Linked DNA regions of Homo sapiens. The protein of the gene in region 1 purifies or fractionates together with the protein of each later gene. This does not show direct contact. Each region holds a gene or a part of one and is shown in the gene's direction. Other genes may lie near its edges. The genes, in order: DDX19B, CRABP2, SERPINB2, SERPINB1, MVP, ANXA8 and HP.

Evidence for each region.
Region 2: the proteins of DDX19B (region 1) and CRABP2 purify together in Homo sapiens (affinity purification with mass spectrometry; 2 studies listed by BioGRID and IntAct, with this or other methods). This does not show direct contact.
Region 3: the proteins of DDX19B (region 1) and SERPINB2 purify together in Homo sapiens (affinity purification with mass spectrometry; 2 studies listed by BioGRID and IntAct, with this or other methods). This does not show direct contact.
Region 4: the proteins of DDX19B (region 1) and SERPINB1 purify together in Homo sapiens (affinity purification with mass spectrometry; 2 studies listed by BioGRID and IntAct, with this or other methods). This does not show direct contact.
Region 5: the proteins of DDX19B (region 1) and MVP purify together in Homo sapiens (affinity purification with mass spectrometry; 2 studies listed by BioGRID and IntAct, with this or other methods). This does not show direct contact.
Region 6: the proteins of DDX19B (region 1) and ANXA8 purify together in Homo sapiens (affinity purification with mass spectrometry; 2 studies listed by BioGRID and IntAct, with this or other methods). This does not show direct contact.
Region 7: the proteins of DDX19B (region 1) and HP purify together in Homo sapiens (affinity purification with mass spectrometry; 2 studies listed by BioGRID and IntAct, with this or other methods). This does not show direct contact.

Annotation. Positions count from the first base shown.
Region 1 is NC_000016.10:70,305,686-70,309,185, forward strand, and holds part of DDX19B (ATP-dependent RNA helicase DDX19B), read left to right. Parts: intron 1-3,500. UniProt on the Homo sapiens protein: ATP-dependent RNA helicase involved in mRNA export from the nucleus.
Region 2 is NC_000001.11:156,699,106-156,702,583, reverse strand, and holds the end of CRABP2 (cellular retinoic acid-binding protein 2), read left to right. Parts: intron 1-1,531; coding exon 1,532-1,710; intron 1,711-1,925; coding exon 1,926-2,042; intron 2,043-2,507; coding exon 2,508-2,558; 3' UTR 2,559-2,978; downstream 2,979-3,478. UniProt on the Homo sapiens protein: Transports retinoic acid to the nucleus. Regulates the access of retinoic acid to the nuclear retinoic acid receptors.
Region 3 is NC_000018.10:63,894,205-63,897,704, forward strand, and holds part of SERPINB2 (plasminogen activator inhibitor 2), read left to right. Parts: intron 1-248; exon of another isoform or gene 249-332; intron 333-1,059; coding exon 1,060-1,179; intron 1,180-2,886; coding exon 2,887-3,015; intron 3,016-3,500. UniProt on the Homo sapiens protein: Inhibits urokinase-type plasminogen activator. The monocyte derived PAI-2 is distinct from the endothelial cell-derived PAI-1.
Region 4 is NC_000006.12:2,831,864-2,835,363, reverse strand, and holds the end of SERPINB1 (leukocyte elastase inhibitor), read left to right. Parts: intron 1-1,351; coding exon 1,352-1,756; 3' UTR 1,757-3,032; downstream 3,033-3,500.
Region 5 is NC_000016.10:29,833,962-29,837,461, forward strand, and holds part of MVP (major vault protein), read left to right. Parts: coding exon 1-105; intron 106-1,742; coding exon 1,743-1,837; intron 1,838-2,760; coding exon 2,761-2,997; intron 2,998-3,500. UniProt on the Homo sapiens protein: Required for normal vault structure. Vaults are multi-subunit structures that may act as scaffolds for proteins involved in signal transduction. Vaults may also play a role in nucleo-cytoplasmic transport.
Region 6 is NC_000010.11:47,470,805-47,474,115, reverse strand, and holds part of ANXA8 (annexin A8), read left to right. Parts: intron 1-50; coding exon 51-146; intron 147-1,095; coding exon of another isoform or gene 1,096-1,154; exon of another isoform or gene 1,155-1,917; intron 1,918-1,924; coding exon 1,925-1,983; intron 1,984-2,731; coding exon 2,732-2,854; intron 2,855-3,311. UniProt on the Homo sapiens protein: This protein is an anticoagulant protein that acts as an indirect inhibitor of the thromboplastin-specific complex, which is involved in the blood coagulation cascade.
Region 7 is NC_000016.10:72,057,505-72,061,555, forward strand, and holds the end of HP (haptoglobin isoform 1 preproprotein), read left to right. Parts: intron 1-749; coding exon 750-851; intron 852-1,609; coding exon 1,610-1,684; intron 1,685-2,607; coding exon 2,608-3,386; 3' UTR 3,387-3,551; downstream 3,552-4,051. UniProt on the Homo sapiens protein: As a result of hemolysis, hemoglobin is found to accumulate in the kidney and is secreted in the urine. Haptoglobin captures, and combines with free plasma hemoglobin to allow hepatic recycling of heme iron and to prevent kidney damage.

The DNA of each region.
Region 1 (3,500 bases):
TCAACGTAGAGATAAATATGTGTTTCAAGTAGTTCTGAGAGGTTTTTTGTTTTTTTAATTATTATTTTTTAAATTTTTATGTATTTATTTTTTGAGACAGAGTCTCACTCTGTCGCCCAGGCTGGAGTGCAGTGGCGCAATCTCGGCTCACTGCAAGCTCCACCTCCTGGGTTCACGCCATTCTCCTGCCTCAGCTTCCCGAGTAGCTGGGACTACAGGCGCCCACCACCATGCCCAGCTAATTTTTTTGTATTTTTTTGGTAGAGATGAGGTTTCACCGTGTTAGCCAGGATGGTCTCGATCTTCTGACCTCGTGATCCGCCCGCCTCGGCCTCCCAAAGTGCTGGGATTACAGGCATGACCCACAGCACCCGGCCTGTTTTTTTTATTTTTTAGTTCTGAGAGTTTTGACTATTTTAACTAACTTCTTGTTAGGTCAGTTTTGTTGTTGTTGTTGTTGTTGTTTGTTGTTGTTGTTGTTTTTGAAATAGAGTCTTACTTTGTCACCCAGGCTGGAATGCAGTGGTGTGTACATGGCTCACTGCACCCTTGACCTCCCAGGCTCATGCAGTCCTCCCACCTCAGCCTTGCAAGTAGCTGGGACTACAGGTGTGCACCACCACACCTGGCAAATTTTTGTATGTTTTGTAGACATAGGGTTTCACCATGTTGCTCAGGGCAGTCTCAAGTTCCTGAGCTCAAGCTATCACCTGCCTTGGCCTTCCAAAGTGCTGGGATTATAGGCATGAGCCACTGCACCCGGCCATTCAGGTCAGGTTAAATTGTCATTGTTTTAACCTATTAATGTGCCTAAGAGGGTTTGTTAGGAGTAGGTAGCTTTGACATTTTCTTTTTGGCTTGAGTTTGCATCATAGAGTTATCTTTTGGATAGAACAGAAACTCATAATAATGAATCCAGTGATAATAAAAACTCAGGTATGAAATGATTAACTCTTGCTGTTTTTAGCAGGCCCAAACTAGCCATTTTATTAACCTTACAACAACAAATTCCTGCATTTTATGAAACAGAATCTTGAGACCCTATTATTATGACATTATGGTGAGATTAAAGTGTACAGTTCACTGATGGTTGGTGTATTCAGAAGTGTGTAGCTTATATCACAGTCAATTTTAGAACATTTTCATCACCCCAAAAGGAAACTCTGTACACATTAGCAGTTACTCCCTGTTTCCCTACAAACTCCCCAGCTCTAGGCAATCACTAATCTACTTTCTGTCTCTTTAGATTTGCCTCTTTTAAACATTTCATATAAATGGGAACATACGGTATGTGATCCTTTGTGACTGGCTCCTTTTATTTAGTATAATGAACTAAGGTTCATTAGTTGTAGCATGTATCAGTACTTTATTCCTTATTGTTGCCAAATAATATTCCATTGTGTGGATATACCACATTTTATTTATCCACTTATCAATTTCTGGACATTTGGATTATTTCTACTTTTTAGCTACTATGAATAATACTGCTTTTGATTAATGTACAAGTTTTTGTGTGGACATATAGTTTCAATACTCGGGTATATATCTAGAAGTGGGACTGCTGGATTATATAGTAATTCTGTATTTAACTTTTGAGAAAGTGCCAGGATGTTTTCCAAAGCAGCTGCATCATTAATCTTTAAGATTAATATTGTCTATGAAATAATATGTCTTTTTTTATTTTTTATTTTTTGGAGACAAGAGTCTCGCACTGTCTCCCAGGCTGGAGTGCAGTGGCACCATCTCGGCTCACTGCAACCTCTGCCTCCCGGGTTTAAGCGATTCTCATGCCTCAGCTTCCTAAGTAGGTGGGATTACAAGCACGTGCCACCATGCCCAGCCAATTTTTCATATTTCAGTAGAGATGGGGTTTCATCATGTTGCCCACAGTGCTCTCGAACTCCTGAGCTCAGGCAATCCATCCATCTCGGCCTCCCAAAGTACTAGGATTACAGGCGTGAGCCATCACATCTGGCCATATGTATATATATGTGTGTGTGTGTGTGTGTATGTATATATGTGTGTGTGTGTATATATGTGTGTATTTTTTTTAATAGAGATGGGGTCTCATTCTGTCACCCAGGCTGGAATGCAGTGGCAAGATCATAGCACACTGTAACCTGGAACTCCTGGGCTCAAGCAATCCTCCCACCTCAGCCTCCCTGGTAGCTGGGACTATGGGCACATACCACCATGCCCAGCTAATATATTTATTTATTTTATTTTAAAATTTATTTAAATTTATTATTTATTTATGTATTTATTTTTATTTATTTATTTATTTTGAGACGGAGTCTCACTCTGCTGCCAAGGCTGGAGTGCAGTGGCACCATGTCGGCTCACTGCAACCTCTGTCTCCTGGGTTCAAGTAATTCTCCTGCCTCAGCCTCCTGAGTAGCTGGGATTACAGGCACCCACCACCATGCCCAGCTAGTTTTTATATTTTTAGTAGAGACAGGTTTTCACCATGTTGGCCAGTCTGGTCTCGAACTCCTGACCTCAGGTGATCCACCTGCCTCGGCCTCCCAAAGTGCTGGGATTACAGGCGTGAGCCACCACACCCGGTCTATTTATTTATTTATTTTTAAGACAGAGTCTCACTCTGTTGCCCAAGCTGGAGTGCAATGGTGTGATCTTGGCTCACTGCAACCTCCAACTCCCAGGTTCAAGTGATTCTCCTGCCTCAGCCTCCTGCGCCACCACACCTGGCTAATTTTTTTTATATTTTTTTAGTAGAGACAGGGTTTTACCATGTTGGTCAGGCTGGTCTCGAACTCCTGACCTCAGGTGATCAGCCTGCCTCAGCCTCCCAAAGCTCTGGGATTACAGGAATGAGCCACCATGCCCAGCCTATTTATTTATTTTTTAGGAGATGGGGTCTCACTATGTTACCCAGGCTTGTCTCGAACTCCATGAGTTCCAAGGATCCTCCCTCCTCGGCCTCCAAAAGTGCTGGGATTCAAGTCACAAGCCACCATGCCCTGTCAATATTTTTATTTTTAATCTTTATAGAGGTGGAGTCTCACTATGTTGCCCAGGCTTGTCTCAAACTCCTGGCCTCAAGGGAGCCTCCCATTTCAGCCTCCCAAAGTGCTGGGATTACAGGTGTGAGCCACTGTGCCCAGCTGTTTTTTTTTTTTTAAAGTTCTAGGGTGCATGTGCAGGATGTGCATGTTTGTTACATAGGTAAACATGTACCATGGTGGTTTGCTGCACCTATCAACCCATCACCTAAGTATTAAGCCCCACATGTATTAGCTCTTTTTCCTAATGCTGTCCCCCACTGCCCTCCCCCATTAGTGTATTCTTTATCCTTCAGAATTAGTGAAGGATTTTTACTGCTTTATAATGATTTCTTTTTTTTTTTGTTTGTTTTTCAGTCGGCTTTCTCCAGTTGAATGGTTTCCTTTTTGTTAAGTTGCTTTTTTCTAATCTCTTTAATGTGTTCCCTTTCTTTTTCCTCTTTCCCAACACCAAAGCAGAAAGGGACCAGAAACTTC
Region 2 (3,478 bases), on another chromosome or scaffold:
TCAGGCTGGTCTCAAACTCCCAACCTCAGATGATCCACCCACCTCGGCCTCCTAAAGTGCTGGGATTACAGGCATGGGCCACTGCGCCAGGTCGTTTTTGTTTGTTTGTTTGTTTTTTGTTTTTTTTGAGATGGAGTCTCGCCTTGTCGCCCAGGCTGGAATGCAGTGGTGTGATCTTGGCTCACTGCAACCTCCGCCTCCCGGATTCAAGTGATTCTCCTACCCCAGCCTCAGCGTCCCAAGTAGCTGGGATTACAGGTGCGCGCCACTATGCCCAGCTAATTTTTGTATTTTTAGTAGAGATGGGGTTTCACTATGCTGGTCAGGCTGGTCTTGAACTCTTGACCTCGTGATCCGCCCGCCTCGGCCTCCCAAAGTGCTGGGATTACAGGCGTGAGCCACTGCGCCCAGACTTTTGTTTTGTTTTGTTTTTGAGACAGGGTCTCTCTCTGTCACCCAGGCTGGAGTGCAGTGGTATGATCTCGGTTCATTACAACCTCCGCCTCCCGGGTTCAAGCAATTCAGCAATTCTCCTGCCTCAGCCTCCTGAGTAGCTGGGATTACAGGTGTGAGCAACTGCGTCCAGCCCTGGCTTTTTTTTTTTTTTGGTAGAGTCGGGGTTTCAGCATGTTGCCCAGGCTGGTATCGAACTCCTGAGCTCAAACAATCCACCTGCCTTGGCCTTGTAAAGTGCTGGGATTATAGGTGTGAGCCACTATACCCAACCTTGATTGGCTTTTGAAGAAGCTGTTATTTCCATTTTACAATTGAGGAATCTAAGGCTCAGGGTGGTTAAGCCATTTGCTCAGGGTCACCCAGCCTGTAAGGGGGCTGAGCCAGGAGGAAATCACAGCCTCCTGGACCTTACTCCAGAGCCTCTGTCTTCCCAGGCTGCTGACCATTCTGTAGAGGGAAGCAGCTGCCCCTGCTCTCTTTCATTGCTGTGGGGCAGAAATTGGGCAAATGAAGACCTATCTAGCACTAGATACGGTGGGTAGATAGGGCAAAAAGGGAAATGGCTCCTACTTCCCAGGACATGAGTGATGGGGTCTGGCCTGTGCTTGGCCAGGGGTACAGTCCCAGTGACTCTGATGAGCTGTCAACAGGGTAGACAAAAGGCCAAAAGTGAAGTAAACAGAGACAACCGGAGCCAGTAGCAGGATGTTTGTTGGGTAGGGGGCTGGGGAGAAGCTGCCCCTGGGCATTCTGGGACTGAAGAGCTGAGACGTGGGGAGCCTGATCCAGACCTGCTGACTCAACAAGGTGGGGCCACAGCTAGGAACAGGACTCCCAGGGGCAGGCCACTGCCTCTCTCCCTCTCCTCCCTAAACCCCCTCATCTTTCAGGGCTGCACCGCCTACCGTCTCCTTCAAGGCACTTTCTTAGACACCCAGGCACCAGGCAGATGCACCCCCCAACACACCCACCCCAAGCAAGTCACAAATCAGCCTGCTCCAACTGTCTTATGGGGAGGGTGTGAGAGAGGTGCCCAAAGGCCCCTAAAAGGTGAGCCTCTCCTCTCTCCCCACAGGGGTGAATGTGATGCTGAGGAAGATTGCTGTGGCTGCAGCGTCCAAGCCAGCAGTGGAGATCAAACAGGAGGGAGACACTTTCTACATCAAAACCTCCACCACCGTGCGCACCACAGAGATTAACTTCAAGGTTGGGGAGGAGTTTGAGGAGCAGACTGTGGATGGGAGGCCCTGTAAGGTGAGTGCCAGAAGGGGCTCCAGGGTCATGGCGTCATTGCCCTGCCTCTCAACCTGCCATTTTCCAGGCTAGCAGTTAACTCCTAGCTTCTCTCTGTCCCAGTAGGGAAAATCCCTAGGTGGTGGTGGGGGCTAGAAAGGGGCTCTCTCCCTTATCCCTCTCACTGCATTGCCCCTGCTATGGGCCCAGCTCACTTGGCCACCTGTCTCTTGCAGAGCCTGGTGAAATGGGAGAGTGAGAATAAAATGGTCTGTGAGCAGAAGCTCCTGAAGGGAGAGGGCCCCAAGACCTCGTGGACCAGAGAACTGACCAACGATGGGGAACTGATCCTGGTAAGTCCTGCCTCCTCCCCACTAATAGCAAACCCAGTGCTACCTTCCAAGATTCTCTGGGAGACCCCAGGGTGCAGGAGACTCAAGAACAACCATGGCTGGACTCCGCACCCTGCTGATGGGACTGCTTGAACAGAACTAAGGTGTCCCTATCCCATACAGTGCCCTGTGTGAATTAGAAATGGTGTTCCTTTTATGCAAGCAAAGGGCATGTACTGAGGGATCCCAGCAGTTCTTCAGGGAGATCTTCCTGGCTTGAGGAGGAGGACGGGCCCCAGGGGCTCTATTGCTATCCTCCCTCCATTGATGCCTGGGCATTCTGGGACCAGCTCCTGCCTGTTGGTCTTGAGCCAAGAAGCAGGTTTGGACCTGGAGGCCAAGCAGAGTACCTCCATTCAACCCTCCTCTCCAAAGCCACAGGACCCCAGGGGCCTCTCAGGCTAACAACTACTTCTGTCCTTCCAGACCATGACGGCGGATGACGTTGTGTGCACCAGGGTCTACGTCCGAGAGTGAGTGGCCACAGGTAGAACCGCGGCCGAAGCCCACCACTGGCCATGCTCACCGCCCTGCTTCACTGCCCCCTCCGTCCCACCCCCTCCTTCTAGGATAGCGCTCCCCTTACCCCAGTCACTTCTGGGGGTCACTGGGATGCCTCTTGCAGGGTCTTGCTTTCTTTGACCTCTTCTCTCCTCCCCTACACCAACAAAGAGGAATGGCTGCAAGAGCCCAGATCACCCATTCCGGGTTCACTCCCCGCCTCCCCAAGTCAGCAGTCCTAGCCCCAAACCAGCCCAGAGCAGGGTCTCTCTAAAGGGGACTTGAGGGCCTGAGCAGGAAAGACTGGCCCTCTAGCTTCTACCCTTTGTCCCTGTAGCCTATACAGTTTAGAATATTTATTTGTTAATTTTATTAAAATGCTTTAAAAAAATAAAACCTGTCTCTGGCTCATTGGGCAGGTAGATAAGTCACCTGAGTTCAACCTTGCCTCTGAAATGTAGTATGGGAAAGACTTGTGTTTCTGCAGCATGGAACTGAGTTATACAACAGGAGAGGACAGTCCTTCCAGTCACCGTTCTAACCACCACCCCTTCGTTTGCTGCTGAATCCACAAGCCTCACCTCCACATTCCCTTCTCCAAGGTCCTTCCTTGGTGTCCTGCTCTGGCTTCCAAGGTCACAAGGGCCTCCTCCTCCTGACCTCTCAGCTGGGGCACTGGGCTCTGAGGAGCTGACTCCCACCTTCTCCCATGTTTTCCATCATGGTGACAGTTTCCTCCTCCTCCTCCAGCTGTTGCTTCCCTCTCCTCCAGCTTCAGCCCATGGGTGACCCCAGGCCTGGCCTTGGCCTCCCACATGGTTCCAGATGAGCTCAACGGCACCCACAAGCTGGCCTTGCAGCTGCCTGGGCCTCTGGGTGAGAGGTCTCATCCTGCC
Region 3 (3,500 bases), on another chromosome or scaffold:
AATTTCCTTGGAAGAGAGGAAAACCAGCCAAGCTGTCGTAGGAAATCTTCTTCTTTTACGTGAGGGTGGAGTTGCACCACTTCTTTTCAGAGAGTACTAGGCAGGACTTACGATGTATGACTCAAAGAGCAGAAAAAGACCTCACAAACCCTAACACCTCTCCTTCTAGCCCAGAAATTCACCAACTTGCTGGACAAGGCTGCCTTAATTAACTTCATTAGCAGAACCCCAACCATCAAGCCACTTACCAGATCAGCTTCTCCTCAGGGACCCCATAGGGAGGTGCTGCAGGACCAAGGGTTCCCAAGGAGGTGGGATGGGGTGGGTGGCTGGGAGGCAGGGCCAGCTTGCAGGTATTAAGACTGGCAGACCAAGGCGGGCAGGCAGCAGTGTTGTGGGAAGGGGATCTGAGGAAGCTTCAGAGGGGACAGTCCTTGCTGCCAGCTTCCCCGTGTCAGCCAAAACTGCCTACTTACTATACGAAGAGATTCACAGTGTCATCAGACCAACTTGTCCCTCACATGGACATAAATTTCTCTGTGTATGAATATGGTATGTGTAAATATTTTAGGTGAACCCTGTTAATATTGCATGACCTGTTTTATGCCTTAGCTGACTCTGGCTTGTAGTTTTTGACAGATTGAAAGTATTTTGTGTATAAGGCCACTGAAAAGAGAGAGACACACAAGGTTCTGAGTTAATCTTGTGACTTTCTTTAAAATACTGGCATTTTTTTTTCAAGACCATTTATTGGTTGGATATAATTTAGATAATTTGGGGAAGAGGTTTTAAATCATTTCATAATAACAATTTGTTTTCCAAAATGGCCAGGATATAAATTAATCTAAAACACCTCATGCTGTTTTCTATAAGGGAAATTTAGGTTGGCTGATACTTTTATATTACACAGAAAGAGTATTGAGTATCTATGGTTGTTCCCCATGTATAAGGGAAGGGAAAAGATCTAGGACCATTTTAGAGCCACCTGATAGCCATCTGTTTTAAAAGTTCAGTAAATCCGTGGGCAAGTGTAACCGTTTTCTCTAATTCTGATTGCAGGTGCTTCAGTTTAATGAAGTGGGAGCCAATGCAGTTACCCCCATGACTCCAGAGAACTTTACCAGCTGTGGGTTCATGCAGCAGATCCAGAAGGGTAGTTATCCTGATGCGATTTTGCAGGTATCTGACTTACTGGTCCAAATTTCTTTTGTGGTTTATTTTTGCAATCTTCCTGTCTTAAAGCCACAGTGTCAGACTGGGAAGGAAGCGAATATACCCTCCCCCATTCACAGAAAGAAAACTAAGACTCAGAGTCATTAAGAAAAACATGTCCTAAGATGATACCCATAACGAGAGACGAGCCAGGACAGAATCCAGACTTCATGAGTTTTAGGCCAAGCCTATTTACTTCTAAATTCTCTCATGCCTCTCTGTCATTGGTGAGGTATGTGTAATTTATCATAAATCCACAGTAGAGACTCCTAGAATACACGTGTATGGATAAGGATTTCCAGAGGAGAGAGGGTAGGGACTGACAATTGATTGAGAAATGGCAGAAGGCTGGGCCCAATGATTGCATGAGAAATCACTGACCTTCAGGTAACTTTCCTTCTATCTATCTAATCTATCATCTATCATTGATCTCTCTCATCTATCTTACCTATCATACATCTATCAATCCTATCTATCTATATATTTTATGAATCATCTATTTATCATCTATCTTCTCTGTCATCTGTCTATCTTATCTATTTATCAATCAGCTATCTCGGGGAGTAACACCTTTCCTCAGTACTCCATTTCCTTAAATGTCAGCTATCCAGTTAAATTATAAAAACTGAGTATAGACTGCTCCTGTTGGCAACCAACTTCCACAGTCATGCTTATGAGGTAGATTATGAAGAGGTATCTCCCAAAGCTCTCTTCCTGGGCACTCTGAAGCTCCTTCTACCCATTGCCCAGGGAATTATGGGCTAGAGGAGGTGGACAGGATCCTGATCATGTGGAGATTCCGCCAGGTGTTCTGTGGTACCTGGCAGTCCATCAGGAGGGCTCTGTCCCCTGCCCTAGGACAGGCTGCTGCTGTGACCAAGCCCTGTGTCTGACATGGTGCTTACAAACTTCAGTTTGAGAACTGAAATAACCATTCACTTTTGTGGTTTTCTAAAACCCATGTTTTCCACTGCATAGTTTGCCCCATAAAATAGGTATCTAGAGAAGCTATATGAACTTTGTAAGATCATTACTAAGGCAACATTTCCTCCCTGCCAGCTTTACTGAGGTATAATGGACAAATAAAAATTGTACATGTTCAAGATGTACAGTGTGATGACTTGCTATACCTATACATTGTGAAATGATTACAGTCAAATTAATGAGCACATCCATCACTACAATTACCCACCATTTGTATGTATGTGTGTATGTATAGTGAGGACACTTAAAAAATATATTCTTCACAAATTTCAAGTAAACAGTTTTATTAACTATAACTATTAATGAACACAATCTTATTAACTATAGTCATTATACTGTACATTAGATCCCCAGAACTTATCCATCTTATAAATACAACAAAAATTCCTTAGAGACTTTGAAGTTTAGGAAACTGAGAAGGGGCCTTTCTTCTAGGCTGTTGGTCACCTGGTTAAATCCAATCCATAGACAGAGCAAAATTGGAAAGAAATTAAAATTCACCTTATTAGTTTTAATGTACCACATCCTTATCGAAATGATTTTCTCAAAGATTCCTCTAATGTACCAAAAATAAAGTATGTATTAATATAGCATTTCATGATTGTATTCAAAAACTATTACCATGGCTTAAGAACTATCTTGTTTAGTAGTTCTGTGTTATATATAAAGAATTCCTTCTTTCTTTTCAAGGCACAAGCTGCAGATAAAATCCATTCATCCTTCCGCTCTCTCAGCTCTGCAATCAATGCATCCACAGGGAATTATTTACTGGAAAGTGTCAATAAGCTGTTTGGTGAGAAGTCTGCGAGCTTCCGGGAAGTAAGTGAAACCTGTAATTGAAATGGCTGGATCCCAAACAAGTAATGAAGTCACTTTCAAAGCAGTTCTCTACAATTCAACAGTTCATAAAAGCAGAGTTGGAATTCCACACCAGCTCCCTAGGGCTGGCCTTGCGTAACAGCTGCCCTTCCTGTACCCTCTGGGGCTTCCTCCTCTTCCCATTGCAAATGTCCCAATCTCAGAGTCATAAATCAGGAAAACAAATGCAACTGTTTTCCAGAGACACTATCCCCCAAGTCAAACCTCTTTCCTTTTATTCTGTCTCTATAATGCAAGGAGTACAAGAGGGTGGATAGAGTTGGGGAGTAAGCGTGGACAAAGGGGTCTGCACTCTTTCCCCCTTCAGCACCTGCCTTCCATAGCCAACCTCCACTCCCACCCTACCCCAGGTCTCCTAATTTCAATGGGAAGACCATAATTCACCATTATGCCATGGCTTGTTTGGTATGTATTTTATGTAGCCT
Region 4 (3,500 bases), on another chromosome or scaffold:
GTGTAGCATATATCTTCATCACGTACTATAAAATTCTATTATTACACTGTTTGTTCTCATCACAATTCATATAGATAGTGAATTAAATTTTCAATGGGTACAAGACAGAAAAAGCCTCATGTGACATGTTAGGCCTATTTACTAGTATGATCTTTGCATGAGGTTTCCATTATATGTAGGGACTCTAGCCTGCTCTGTGCTCTCCGTCTCCTCCCTATCCACCTATTCATCATCCTTGCTATCAGGAAGGGGGTCTAATGTTAATCATTTGCATGTACAGACTTTTAATACATTGTATAACAATCAATGTGGCCTTTCTTTTGGTTGTATTTTTGCATTAGTTTTTTTTCTGATTGTAAAGTGAAAATCTCTAGCCTCTTAAAAGGAATTATCAGCACCATTAGAAGAAGTAGAGTGATGGTTCTATTCCAGTCCAATAGCTATAACAATAGTAATGATAATAGCTGACATTTATGTAGCACTATGGGCCAAGCACTTTATATACATCATTTCATTTAATGCTCTCAACAATCTATAAGGTAGATATAAGTAATGTCCACATCACATTTCAGATGAGGAACTAGCTCCAGTGCATAATCTGCCTTTAAAATTTTTACCTAGGAGCTAAAGTTATTAGATATTACTTCAGCTTCAGTGGGATTCAGACTAAATAGAAGAAATATTTTAAATTTCTTCTAGCACTACTCAACCTGGAAGTAATAGCAGCTGTCATGACCTATCACTGTAATCCATTGTGGTAGGGGTTTAGTAAACCCTGGATGAATGGATGGATGGATGAATGGGTAGATGGATGGGTGGATGGGTGGATGAGTAAATGGGTGGATGGATGATAGATAGGTGGATAGATTGTTGGATGGGTGGGTGGGTGGATAGGTGAATGGATGGATGGATGGGTGGATGGGTAGATGGATGATGAATAGGTGGATAGATGGTTGGATGGGTGGGTGGGTAGATAGGTGAATAAATGGATGGATGGATGGGTGGCTGTGTTGCTGGGTAGCTGGGTGGATGGATGGATGGATGGATGGATGGATGGATGGATGGATGAGTGGACAAATGGGTGGATGGATGGGTGGATGGGTGGGTGAGTGGATGATGGACCCAATGTACAAATCCCTTGAACCTTTGATGACTTGGAACACCACCTCTGCCCTATTTCACCAATTGCCATAATGAAATAAAATGCTCCAAATGGAATCTGTTTTGGCACAAAACATGAAGGAAACTAACTAGCAACTGATATTATGGGTCCATTGATTCAATAATACTTTATTGCCTTACTTATGTAAAATTGATATCACTTCCTCTTTCGCCTCATTTTTAATTGCAGATTGAGGAACAGTTGACTTTGGAAAAGTTGCATGAGTGGACTAAACCTGAGAATCTCGATTTCATTGAAGTTAATGTCAGCTTGCCCAGGTTCAAACTGGAAGAGAGTTACACTCTCAACTCCGACCTCGCCCGCCTAGGTGTGCAGGATCTCTTTAACAGTAGCAAGGCTGATCTGTCTGGCATGTCAGGAGCCAGAGATATTTTTATATCAAAAATTGTCCACAAGTCATTTGTGGAAGTGAATGAAGAGGGAACAGAGGCGGCAGCTGCCACAGCAGGCATCGCAACTTTCTGCATGTTGATGCCCGAAGAAAATTTCACTGCCGACCATCCATTCCTTTTCTTTATTCGGCATAATTCCTCAGGTAGCATCCTATTCTTGGGGAGATTTTCTTCCCCTTAGAAGAAAGAGACTGTAGCAATACAAAAATCAAGCTTAGTGCTTTATTACCTGAGTTTTTAATAGAGCCAATATGTCTTATATCTTTACCAATAAAACCACTGTTCAGAAACAAGTCTTTCATTTTCTTTGTAAGTTTGGCTCTGTTGGCTGTTTACACCCATGAATTTTGGCATGGGTATCTATTTTTCTTTTTTACATTGAAAAAAATCCAGTGGTTGCTTTTGAATGCATCAAGTAAAGAAGAAGAAAAGAATACATCCGATGCGTAGATTCTTGACCATGTAGTAATCTATAAAATTGCTATATCCTCCTGATAGCCATGGGAAAACATGATAAGATGGTCATTTATTTTGCAGTTAGAATTTTGGAAGCCACAAAATAGACAGACACCCTGACTGTTGAAGGGAGGTTTAAAAACAGATATTCAATTGAAATGTAAGAGAGCACCCCAATTGAGAGCCCAGGTTACGAAGACAAGCTTGCCTCGCCTGACTTTTCTGTCCCTTGTTCTGCAGGATTAGTATTCTGTTACAGACCTCTAGTTTTTAGACTCTTCAATTAAAGGGCCAATGGTTATAACCTGCATTCCCTTTTTTGTTCTTCTTTATGTATAATATATAGTTCATGTGGCGCTGCATGAAATCAAGAAGTGGGTGTCTTAGGATAAAAGATACCAAGAGTCTACAAAAATAACCATGTAGTAAGATAAACTGCTGAACAAAGGTTTTACTGTTAGCCACCTTCTCATGTGTTTTCTTTTCTCTTTTTCTTTTTCTTTCTTTCTTTCTTTTTTTTTTTTTTGAGACAGAGTCTTGCTCTGTTACCCAGGCTGGAGTGCAGTGGCACGATCTCAGCTCACCGCAACCTCTGCCTCCTGGGTTCAAGTGATTCTCTTGCTTCAGCCTCCTGAGTAGCTGGGATTATAGGCATGCACCACTAGGCCTGGCTAATTTTTGTATTTTTAGTAGAGATGGGGTTTTTCCATGTTGGCCAGGCTGGTCCCGAACTCCTGACCTCAGGTGATCCGCGCACCTCAGCCTCCCAAAGTGCTGGGATTACAGGCATGAGCTACCATGCCTGGCCTTCTCATGTGTTTTCTGATTAAGGCTCTTGACTTCCAAGGCTGTGTGGGGAGATGGGGTGGGGGCTCTTGGACTGATATAAAACTTTGTCAAATGTAGTTCTTTGAATGGAGCTTGAAACGCCGCATATTCTTGCTCCCACAAGGATAGTGGGCATCATGAATTAATAAAACGTCCTAGGATTCTGCAAGCTAGACTGGTCTCAGGCCTCTTCTTATTGCCCCCTATCCCTAGACAAGTTAAGACTGCAAGTGGGGATTATTGGCCTTACAACATTGTTGGTAGAGAGGAATTCCACATGTTAACAACAAAATTTTAGCAACTCTTTTGCCAACAAACTTTCTTTTCTCCCGCTTTCTTAAAATACTTACCATATTCCAGGTTTTCTCACTCTCAGGAAAAACTCTGCCTTCTGTAAGTCTTCTCTTTTGGTTCCTCATCCTAAAATCCACTCTGATTTGGAGTAAATCATGTTAATTGTGTAGAAACTGAATTGTAGGGGCCCAAGTGAGCCCGCTCAAATTATATATGAGGGAACAGGCCTATAGACTATAAGTAAATTGTTGAAGGTCAAAACAATTGGTGAGTTCCAGGGCAGAGACTAGAATCCAATGCGTATTTTATGTGGAGAGCATCTAATTTATGTAATGGTGAAATAGTTA
Region 5 (3,500 bases), about 40 Mb from region 1:
AGGTCGTGGAGATCATTCAGGCCACCATCATCAGGCAGAACCAGGCTCTGCGGCTCAGGGCCCGCAAGGAGTGCTGGGACCGGGACGGCAAGGAGAGGGTGACAGGTGGGGTCACCAAGGGGCGATGATGGTGGGTGGGCAGGAGGGGTCCCCACTGCAGGGGAAGCAGGGGAAGGTTGAGGAAAGCCTCCTGTAGCCCCAGAGAGGCGCTTTCCTGGTATCTTTTGAAAGCTGTTGAGGGCCACCCACTGCTCTTCCTTCCCCACCCCCGCTTCATGCTGTTTCCACTTGGGCTGGAAAATGTGACCATGACCATGCGGATGTGGCTTTTCCTTCCCTCACCTTCACCATGAGCTGTGGGCAGTGGCCATGACTTACCTGATTCTGGATCAACAAAGAAGATGTTCAAATACAATTGACAAATGTAGGCCAATAGGTACAGTGGCTCACACCTGTCATCCCAGCACTTTGCCAAGGTGGGTGAATCGTCTGAGCCCAGGAGCTTAAGACCAGCCTGAGCAACACAGTGAGACCCCATCTCTACAGAGAATTTAAAAATTAGCCTGGCCTTGGACACACACCTGTGGTCCCAGCTACTCAGAAGGCTGAAGGGGGAGAATTTCTTGAGCCCAGGATGTGGAGGCTGCAGTGAGCTGTGACTGCACCACTGCACTCCATCCTGGGCCACAGAGGTACTACCCCGAGGTGCTACCATTCCCACTTTTTTTTTTTTTTTGAGACGGAGTCTTGCTTTCTTGCTGTTGCCCAGGTTGGAGTGCAGTGGCGCGATCTCGGCTCACTGCAAGCTCCGCCTCCTGGGTTCACACCATTCTCCTGCCTCAGCCTCCTGAGTAGCTGGGACTACAGGCGCCCACCACCATGCCCAGCTAATTTTTTTTTTTTTTGTATTTTTTTTTTTTTTTTTTTTAGTAGAGACAGGGTTTCACCATGTTAGCCAGGGTGGTCTTGATCTCCTGACCTCGTGATCCACCAGGTTCGGCCTCCCAAAGTGCTGGGATTACAGGCGTGAACCACCGCACCCGGCCATTCCCACTTTCTATATATCAAAACTGGGATGCAGAATGCAGGTTGCTTGCCCTGGGGTGTGGCCAGGCAGGGCGAGGCTGGGACCTGCATCCAGGCACTCTGGCTTCTCCAGTAAACCAAAGGACATCCACAACTCTAACAGAGGCAGTTCTGCTGCCTGTTTTAGCAGAAGGACAAAAGTTGGTCTTTGGAGCTTAGAGAAGGCAGAACAGGCTGTTGGCATAGCAGCAACTTGGGCATCTTAGGAGGCCAAGGTGGGCGGATCACTTGAGGCCAGGAGTTCCAGACTAGCTTGGGCAACATGGTGAAACACCATCTCTACAAAAAATACAAATATTAGCCGGGCGTGGTGGCACGTGCCTGTAATCCCAGCTACTCAGGAGGCTGAGGCATGAGAATCACTTGAATCCAGGAGGCTGAGGTTGCAGTGAGCTGAGATCACAGCCTGGGCAACAGAGGGAGACTCCGTCTCAAAAAAAAAAAAAAAAAAAAAAAAACTTTTAAAATTCAACTGGGGTGGGGGTTTGGCCTCAAAAGAATGAATAAGAGGACCGCAGTCAGGAACTTGAGCCTGGGGTCAGTGCTATCTTTTTGCCTATGAAATCTGTCAATCCCCTGTGTCTAAGCTGTGGGGGAGGGGTAGGTGGGGAGCAGGCTGGGGGGCCCTTGTCCCTTACCCTCCACTCTTGGCCCAGGGGAAGAATGGCTGGTCACCACAGTAGGGGCGTACCTCCCAGCGGTGTTTGAGGAGGTTCTGGATTTGGTGGACGCCGTCATCCTTACGGAAAAGGTTGGTGCTCTGGGGGCTGTGGTTTAAGGGACCTGGGGCTAGGGAACCCTCCGAGTGGCAGAGAATGGTGGTAGAATGGCATGAGAGTAAAAGAGAAGCAATAATTTTAGGGTCACTTAAAAAAATTCAGAGATCAGATTGCCTGAGTATTCTGGATCATCTGAAGGGTTAAATAGTCTTTCTGGGGCTGGGCGCAATGACTCACATCTGTAATCTCAGCAATTTGGAAGGCTGAGGCAGGAGGATCACTTGAGGCCAGGAGTCTGAGACCAGCCTGGGCAACACAGTGAGAACTCATCGCTACAAAAAATTTAAAAATTAGCTGGGTGTAGTGGAGCATGCCTGTAATTCCAGTTACTCCAGAGGCGCTGAGGCAGGAGAATCGCTTGAACCCCAGAGGCAGAGGTTACAGTGAGCCATGATCATGCCACTGTGCTCCAGCCTGGGCAACAGAGCGAAACCCTGTCTCAAAAAAAAAAAAAAAAAACAAAGCCGGTCGGGTGCAGTGGCTCATGCCTGTAATCCTAGCATTTTGGGAGGCTGAGGTGGGAGGATCACCTGAGGTCAGGAGTTCAAGACAAACCTGGCCAACATGGCGAAACCCCATCTCTACTAAAAATACAAAAATTAGCTGGGCATGGTGTCACCCACCTGTAATCCCAGCTGTACTCAGGAGGCTGAGGCAGGAGAATCGCTTGAACCTAGGAGGCGGAAGTTGCAGTGAGCTGAGATCGCACCTTTGCACTCTAGCCTGGGCAACAAGAGAGAGACTCCGATTTAAAAAAAAAAAAAAACAATCCCTGGATTGGTAGAAATTGTCTCTGAGATCTGGGAGCATTGGGAGCATTTGGTGGCCAATGGGGCTCGCAGATCCCCTGAAGTTGGAGGCAGGTCACTCAAATACCCAACATGTTGCTCTGCAGACAGCCCTGCACCTCCGGGCTCGGCGGAACTTCCGGGACTTCAGGGGAGTGTCCCGCCGCACTGGGGAGGAGTGGCTGGTAACAGTGCAGGACACAGAGGCCCACGTGCCAGATGTCCACGAGGAGGTGCTGGGGGTTGTGCCCATCACCACCCTGGGCCCCCACAACTACTGCGTGATTCTCGACCCTGTCGGACCGGATGGCAAGAATCAGCTGGGGCAGAAGCGCGTGGTCAAGGTGAGGTCCCTACACCCCCACAGAGGACTGCCCTGGGAGATGTATGTCCTCTAGTGGCATGAGGCCCTCTGCCTTCTCTCCTCCAGACGCACGTTCTAGGAACACCTTCTGTGCCTTTGCATGCTTAGTTCTTACACACCTGAGACACTGGCCCATTTGATTCCTGGCAGCCTCTGACTTACCCCTCAGACCTGAAGTTAATTCCCCTTCTGGGAAGGCCTCCTGGCTACCCGCTGCCTGAGACTCTGAAACTCTGATACAGTCATGCGCCACTTAATGATGGGGATACATTCTGAGAAATAGTCCTTAGATGATTTTGTCTTTGTGCAAAAGAGTGCACTTATGCAAACCTAGATGGCACCTAGTCTAGATGGCGTAGCCTGCCCCTAGGCTGCCAACCTGTGCAGCATGTGACTGTCCTGAATACTGCAGGCAGCTGAACACAATGGCAAGTACTTGTGTATCTAGCCATAGAAAAGGTAAGGTAAAAATACAATATAAAA
Region 6 (3,311 bases), on another chromosome or scaffold:
GGGCATCACGAGGAGGTCTGACCATCCCCTGAGCAGAGCCCTCTCCACAGTGTTTGAAGAGTATGAGAAAATTGCCAACAAGAGCATTGAGGACAGCATCAAGAGTGAGACCCATGGCTCACTGGAGGAGGCCATGCTCACTGTGGGTAAGAGCTCAGACTTGCACGTTTTTCAGGCCACAGGGCTCACCGTGGGGCAGCACCAAAGAACAAAGGGCCTAGGGATGCGACCACAAGAGAAAGAATCCCTGTGTCACCTTCACGGGATGTCCCCCCGACTCACACTCTGCCTGTCTCCCTCACCCAGGGACTGCTCCACCTCTAGAGTCCCAGTGTGTGCTGCCAAAGATTGTTCTCTGTGCTGCCCACGTGGTGCCCAGTGCTGTGTGGGTGTGTCTGCATGAGTGTGTGTGTGCGTGAGAGTGTGTGTGCCTGAGGGTGTGTGTGCATGACTGTGGGTGGAATGTGAGTGTGTGTGTGTGAGACAGACAGTGTGTGTGTGTGCGCACACAAATGCATACGCCAGTGATTATGCCAGCCCCAACCCTGTGTGTACTCATGGCAGCCATGCAGGGAGCACTCTGGCTGTGGTTGTGAAGCCCTGGCCAGCACAAAGTCATCTTTCTGGACATGAACCAGGGGCCTGGCCCCTGCCTTCATTGCCAGTTGAAGAAACAGTGATGTGTGGCTTGAGTCCAAACTGAGTGACGGATGGTCTGATGCTGAGAAACACTGGGGATCTTCCCCACAGCAGGAAGTCAGGGCCACTCAGGAGGACCCACTCCAGAGCTCTCATGGGTTCCAGGGCTGAGATCACAATGGGAAGAGTCACTGCAGAGTAAAGAGCTGAGGCCCAGGGCAGAGGGACGTCTCTTCTCCCACTTACACACAGAGCCCAGGTCCGGACTCCTGGCCTGCAGCTCTCACCTCCACACCAGGCTGCCTCCGTGCAAAGCCAGCAGCCAGCAGGCTCCCTGCTGTTTCCTAGCCTCTCTGGGTGGACAGGGCCATCTGAGACACCCCAGCTGGCCTTGGATGCTGTGATACAATCCGGTCTATGTCAGGACATCTAATCACACCCCTGCTCCAATCTCAGCTTCCACCCCTGGATCTGGCCTGAACCCACCAAGAATGAAGTCTGCCAGCAGGGAATAGTGAAGCCATGCAGTGCTCCGTCATGCTGGGCCTTCCTATTCACTTCACCTTGAAGCCTCGCATCAGTCTCACTTCCCAGATGAGTCAGGGAGGTTGAGTAATGAAGCCATACTGCACCATCAAGGCAGGAAGTGAACACATGCCTACCTCACTCAAAGCCCATGCTCCTTCTGCAGCCCTAAGTGAAAATGCCAACCTTCCCCACCCAGATGCCAAGTCTCTGAGCAGTACCCATGGGAGCAAGCATGGGCCCAGTCTCTGGACCAGACGCCCCCAGGTGCCTTAGTCCTGTGGGGCCAAACTCCACTTGTCACATGGGAATTCAAAATGCAGGGTTCCTGCTGATAAGTGTGAGAGAGAGGGCACTCTGAGGCCAGCAGCCACCATCCCATGGTGCTTCTGTGGAGCTGAGAGGCTGGATTTTTGGTGGAGGTGTCTCTGGGTTGAGAGCCCAGGGCCTGTCCTGAGTCTGAGCTGCCCTTGGATGGGCTTGAGCTGGTGTCTTCAGACGAGCCCCACAGTCTGGTGCATTTCACATCTTACCCTTTTGCCTGCCTGCTTGGGCCTTTGGAGCTGTGCCCAGTGCCCCGGGCTACCTTCCCTGTCCCACGCCACCTGACACAAAGCCTCTCACATTGGGAAAGGCACGGAACAAAGAAATATGCCAAGCCTTGCACAACACTGACTCTTAAGACCTAAGGCAAGACATAAAGTTGTAGGCAGTGCCACCTACCAGCTCCAGACATTAACACAGCTTTCTTGTTTGCCAGTGAAATGCACCCAAAACCTCCACAGCTACTTTGCAGAGAGACTCTACTATGCCATGAAGGTAACTGTCCTGTCTTCTTCTTCCTGACGCTCACCCTACATAGCACCAAGTGCAAAGCCAAGGAGCTCAAAGCCACCACGATCCTCCACACGGGGGAGTTATCTTACCCAAACCTGTCGTGGATCAGAAAGGTTTTAGTTCTCGGAGGTGAAATTGAGTCTGGGAAAGGGACGCTGCATCTCCAGAGGTGAATAATTCCCTGAAACTAAAACCATTGCCCGTTTTCTCTGATTGATGGTTGCTGATATCCCCTGAAGTTAGTTCCACACCCGAAACCCAAGCCCTCTGGCCACTTCTGCCCAGGAAATGAGAGAGGGCATGCGATTCCCTTGGCCATGTGGCCCCAGCTGACATGAGACTGGTCAGGGATGAAGGTGAGCAGGAAGGCCCTGCCTGTGAAATTCCTGGCTGAGCTGATTGCTGCCATTGCTCTAGTAGGAAGTCTTGTTCCTGGAGCAGTGAGTATTTTGTGTCTAGAATCTGATGTGGCAAACCAAACATACTGCAGTTTGGAGCACTTGGCATCATAAAGGAAGAGTTCTGGGCAGTGGGTGAGAAGGAATTAAGGGAGTGGACACCCTAAGCCACCAAAGCTTCCCTCCTAATGCTTCCCTGGCTGAAGCACAGGCTCCTTCCCACATCTCCCTCCCTCTAAAAGCCCCAGAACCCAACCACACAGATCCGTCCATCACTCAGAGATGGACAGGAAAGGTGAGGCAGGATTGTTGATGGCTGCTGTCTTGCCCAGGGAGCAGGGACGCGTGATGGGACCCTGATAAGAAACATCGTTTCAAGGAGCGAGATTGACTTAAATCTTATCAAATGTCACTTCAAGAAGATGTACGGCAAGACCCTCAGCAGCATGATCATGGTAAGCAGGCATTCCCAATGCTGAGGCCAGCCTGAAACCCAGACATTCAGGGAAACCTGGAGGCTGTGGCCAACACTACGTGAGCCCCTCCCTTCCCAGTGGGCACCATGTGCTTGCATTCATGACCATGTGGTGTGTGCAGGGAACAGCAGAGGTCAGTGTGGCTGGATCCCAAGGGGAATGGGGGGCAGAGGGGAGATGCAGAGACCAGGGCACAGAGGCTCCCCTGTGTCCCACTCAGAAAGTTGGTTTCACATTTAAGTTATGGTTGCTCCTTGGAAAAGACACCAAATCCTTGCAGAAGAAGCCACCTCTGAAAAGTCAATGAGATGAACTAGTCCGGTAGGAATCGGGCCCACCGCTCAAATCCAGATTTAAGTAGTCCTGGCGGCCAACTTCTAAGGAGATAAGTCAGATGAGCGCCAATAGACTATCTAACCAGATTCCAATTAGCAAA
Region 7 (4,051 bases), 1.8 Mb from region 1:
GCGTCCAGCGGGGAACGTCCTAGAGGCACAGCCTTCCAGTGCGGCTTCCTCTGAGCACACAAGAGCCAGGAGGAGGGATGTGGGAGAACCGCAGCTGGCCAGGGAGAGACTTAAGCAGTTAGGTGATGACTCCCTAAGGGTCACCAAGGGTCTTGTTCATTGGGGCCTGAAGGGCACTGGCTGAATCCACTGTCGGCACTGCCCACAGATCAGGAGAGCCTGTGCATACAGAGAGCCTGCTAGAAAGCCCTGGGTCTAAGGAGAAGCAAGCTCCAGGGAGAACAAGTCAAGGAATGACATAAAATCTTAATCCATGGAAGCCTAGCAGGAGGCTGGACATGGGCTGGAACTCCTGCTTCTCGTTATTAGGAGGAGCTGTTGCTCTCTCCTTTCATTCTCAGAACCAGAGGCAAAGACCCAGCCTCTTCTGCTCTTACTGGTGTGGAAATGCCAACCTGCCTCGTATTAACTGCACCATCTACAAAATCTGAGCTCCAGCCAGTGCTGCTCTAGATTCATCTTTCTTTAGAGAGAATGAATTATTGTAGCCCCTAGCCCTTTCAATGAATTTCAGGGAATTGTGGAAATTCCTTTATTGGGATAATTGTTTAAAAATAATACAGTTCGCGAGCTTCTATTCGGGGTGGAAGGAGATTGATGTGCAGAGCAGCTCCCGCTCATCTGACTTTTCACGGTTCACTGGGAACAATTTCCAAATAGCAAACTCTCTGGCTTCTCTCTCTTTGCAGATGACGGCTGCCCGAAGCCCCCCGAGATTGCACATGGCTATGTGGAGCACTCGGTTCGCTACCAGTGTAAGAACTACTACAAACTGCGCACAGAAGGAGATGGTAAGATGTGGACAACTGTCTCCATGCCCTACATACAACCCCCTTCTCTGACATTTCCATGATGGGTGGTGCTGAGGTGATTCGCCAGAAAGTTCGTTGCTCTCCTTGGAGCCAGGAGATTTAGATTCTAATAAGCGTTTTGTCGCCAGTAGCCATGGCCCTTTGGGCAGACTAACTTTTGTCAGCCTCAAGTTTTCTGTTTTGTTAAGGGGAGGCGATGCCATGCAGCCTACCTCATGTAAATCTCAGAGTCACATTTACATCTCCAGCAGATGTGGGAAAAGAAGGAATGCTGATGATGATGTCACCCTCACCTAGTGAGTCTTGCTGTCCTGGCACTGCTCTAAGGGCTTTATACTTATTTGCTCACTTAGTCCTCACAGTATCCCTCTGAACAGAGTTTATTGTTTTCACTTTGCTGATAAGGAAACTGAGGCACAGACAGGTTGAGTATCTTGCCCAAATTCAGGCAGCCTGTAAGAGGCAGAGTCAGGATTTGAACCCTGAGCCCTCCCTGTACTGCTTGGCTGTGACCGCCATGACCACAGTGTGTTCTGCTGGGCTTAACTGGCATCCAGGCACTTGGCTTCCAGCACAGCACTCTTTCCCTTCCTCCTTCTCATATACTCTCTCCTTTTCCCCTTCCTTTTTGTCCCCTTTTCCTCTTCCTTTTAGTTCTTCTCTTTAAATGCCTTCTCACTCTGCACGGGGTCTAGACTTGACTTCTCCTTTGGCTCACTTCTTGCCTTTTGTTTCAGGAGTGTACACCTTAAACAATGAGAAGCAGTGGATAAATAAGGCTGTTGGAGATAAACTTCCTGAATGTGAAGCAGGTGGGTGCTGAGCACTTAAGAGAGCAGGCAGGCGTCCAGCGGGGAACGTCCTAGAGGCACAGCCTTCCAGTGCGGCTTCCTCTGAGCACACAAGAGCCAGGAGGAGGGATGTGGGAGAACCGCAGCTGGCCAGGGAGAGACTTAAGCAGTTAGGTGATGACTCCCTAAGGGTCACCAAGGGTCTTGTTCATTAGGGCCTGAAGGGCACTGGCTGAATCCATTGTCTACATCGCCCACAGATTAGGAGAGCCTGTGCATACAGAGAGCCTGCTAGAGAGCCCTGGGTCTAAGGAGAAGCAAGCTCCAGGGAGAACAAGTCAAGGAATGACATAAAATCTTAATCCATGGAAGCCTAGCAGGAGGCTGGACATGGGCTGGAACTCCTGCTTCTCGTTATTAGGAGGAGCTGTTGCTCTCTCCTTTCATTCTCAGAACAAGAGGCAAAGGCCCAGCCTCTTCTGCTCTTACTGGTGTGGAAATGCCAACCTGCCTCGTATTAACTGCACCATCTACAAAATCTGAGCTCCAGCCAGTGCTGCTCTAGATTCATCTTTCTTTAGAGAGAATGAATTATTGTAGCCCCTAGCCCTTTCAATGAATTTCAGGGAATTGTGGAAATTCCTTTATTGGGATAATTGTTTAAATATAATACAGTTCACCAGCCAGGGCTCAAAAATCTCAGTATTTCCCACTTCCTTTGTTAGAAAAGTGGGAAATAGAGCTTTTTGTAATGTAAACAATTTAAAAAACAGAATTATTTTAAAACTGCAACTATTGGAAATGAGATCAGCAGGTGGTAAGGGCAAAGCATTTAAATCTTTCTACTTTACGCAGCAGTGACAGCCGCCCATGCTTTCACCCCTTTCTCAGATGGAAAGGCTCTTGCACATTTCCACTCACGAGTGTCTTGCTCTCCTTGACAGTATGTGGGAAGCCCAAGAATCCGGCAAACCCAGTGCAGCGGATCCTGGGTGGACACCTGGATGCCAAAGGCAGCTTTCCCTGGCAGGCTAAGATGGTTTCCCACCATAATCTCACCACAGGTGCCACGCTGATCAATGAACAATGGCTGCTGACCACGGCTAAAAATCTCTTCCTGAACCATTCAGAAAATGCAACAGCGAAAGACATTGCCCCTACTTTAACACTCTATGTGGGGAAAAAGCAGCTTGTAGAGATTGAGAAGGTTGTTCTACACCCTAACTACTCCCAGGTAGATATTGGGCTCATCAAACTCAAACAGAAGGTGTCTGTTAATGAGAGAGTGATGCCCATCTGCCTACCTTCAAAGGATTATGCAGAAGTAGGGCGTGTGGGTTATGTTTCTGGCTGGGGGCGAAATGCCAATTTTAAATTTACTGACCATCTGAAGTATGTCATGCTGCCTGTGGCTGACCAAGACCAATGCATAAGGCATTATGAAGGCAGCACAGTCCCCGAAAAGAAGACACCGAAGAGCCCTGTAGGGGTGCAGCCCATACTGAATGAACACACCTTCTGTGCTGGCATGTCTAAGTACCAAGAAGACACCTGCTATGGCGATGCGGGCAGTGCCTTTGCCGTTCACGACCTGGAGGAGGACACCTGGTATGCGACTGGGATCTTAAGCTTTGATAAGAGCTGTGCTGTGGCTGAGTATGGTGTGTATGTGAAGGTGACTTCCATCCAGGACTGGGTTCAGAAGACCATAGCTGAGAACTAATGCAAGGCTGGCCGGAAGCCCTTGCCTGAAAGCAAGATTTCAGCCTGGAAGAGGGCAAAGTGGACGGGAGTGGACAGGAGTGGATGCGATAAGATGTGGTTTGAAGCTGATGGGTGCCAGCCCTGCATTGCTGAGTCAATCAATAAAGAGCTTTCTTTTGACCCATTTCTGTGTTGTGTTCAGTCTTGAGTCTTTTTTATTTGCTCCTTTATGGTCCAGGGTAGTCAGAAGGTATAGAGTCTACTGGGAGTATGGCAGAAAACACCCTAAACCCACTGGAAATCCCGAAGGTGATACAAACTCTTCCACCTTAGGGAATCATGCTCACTGATTGAGTGCCTATTGAATGCTAGGTCCCAGAAAGTTAACTGTTGTCCTTGTTTTACAGACAAGGAAACAGAGACTCAGAGATGGTAAGTGAGTTGCTTAAGGTTACATAGCTATGAAACAGGGAAGCAGAACTTTGAACCCAGGTCTGTTTGATACAAACTCAGAGGTCCTTTCACTGCATGCTGTTGCCTCCTCAAAGTGAATTAGGAGAAAAGGCATGGGCCTGGTTGAGGAAGAGGCTAGCTCAAAATGGGATGGGGAAAAAGTGTTTTAACACAGACAGTACTTCAGAGTTTGGGATCTAACCTACCAGCACTCCAGAAAACAAAAGACAA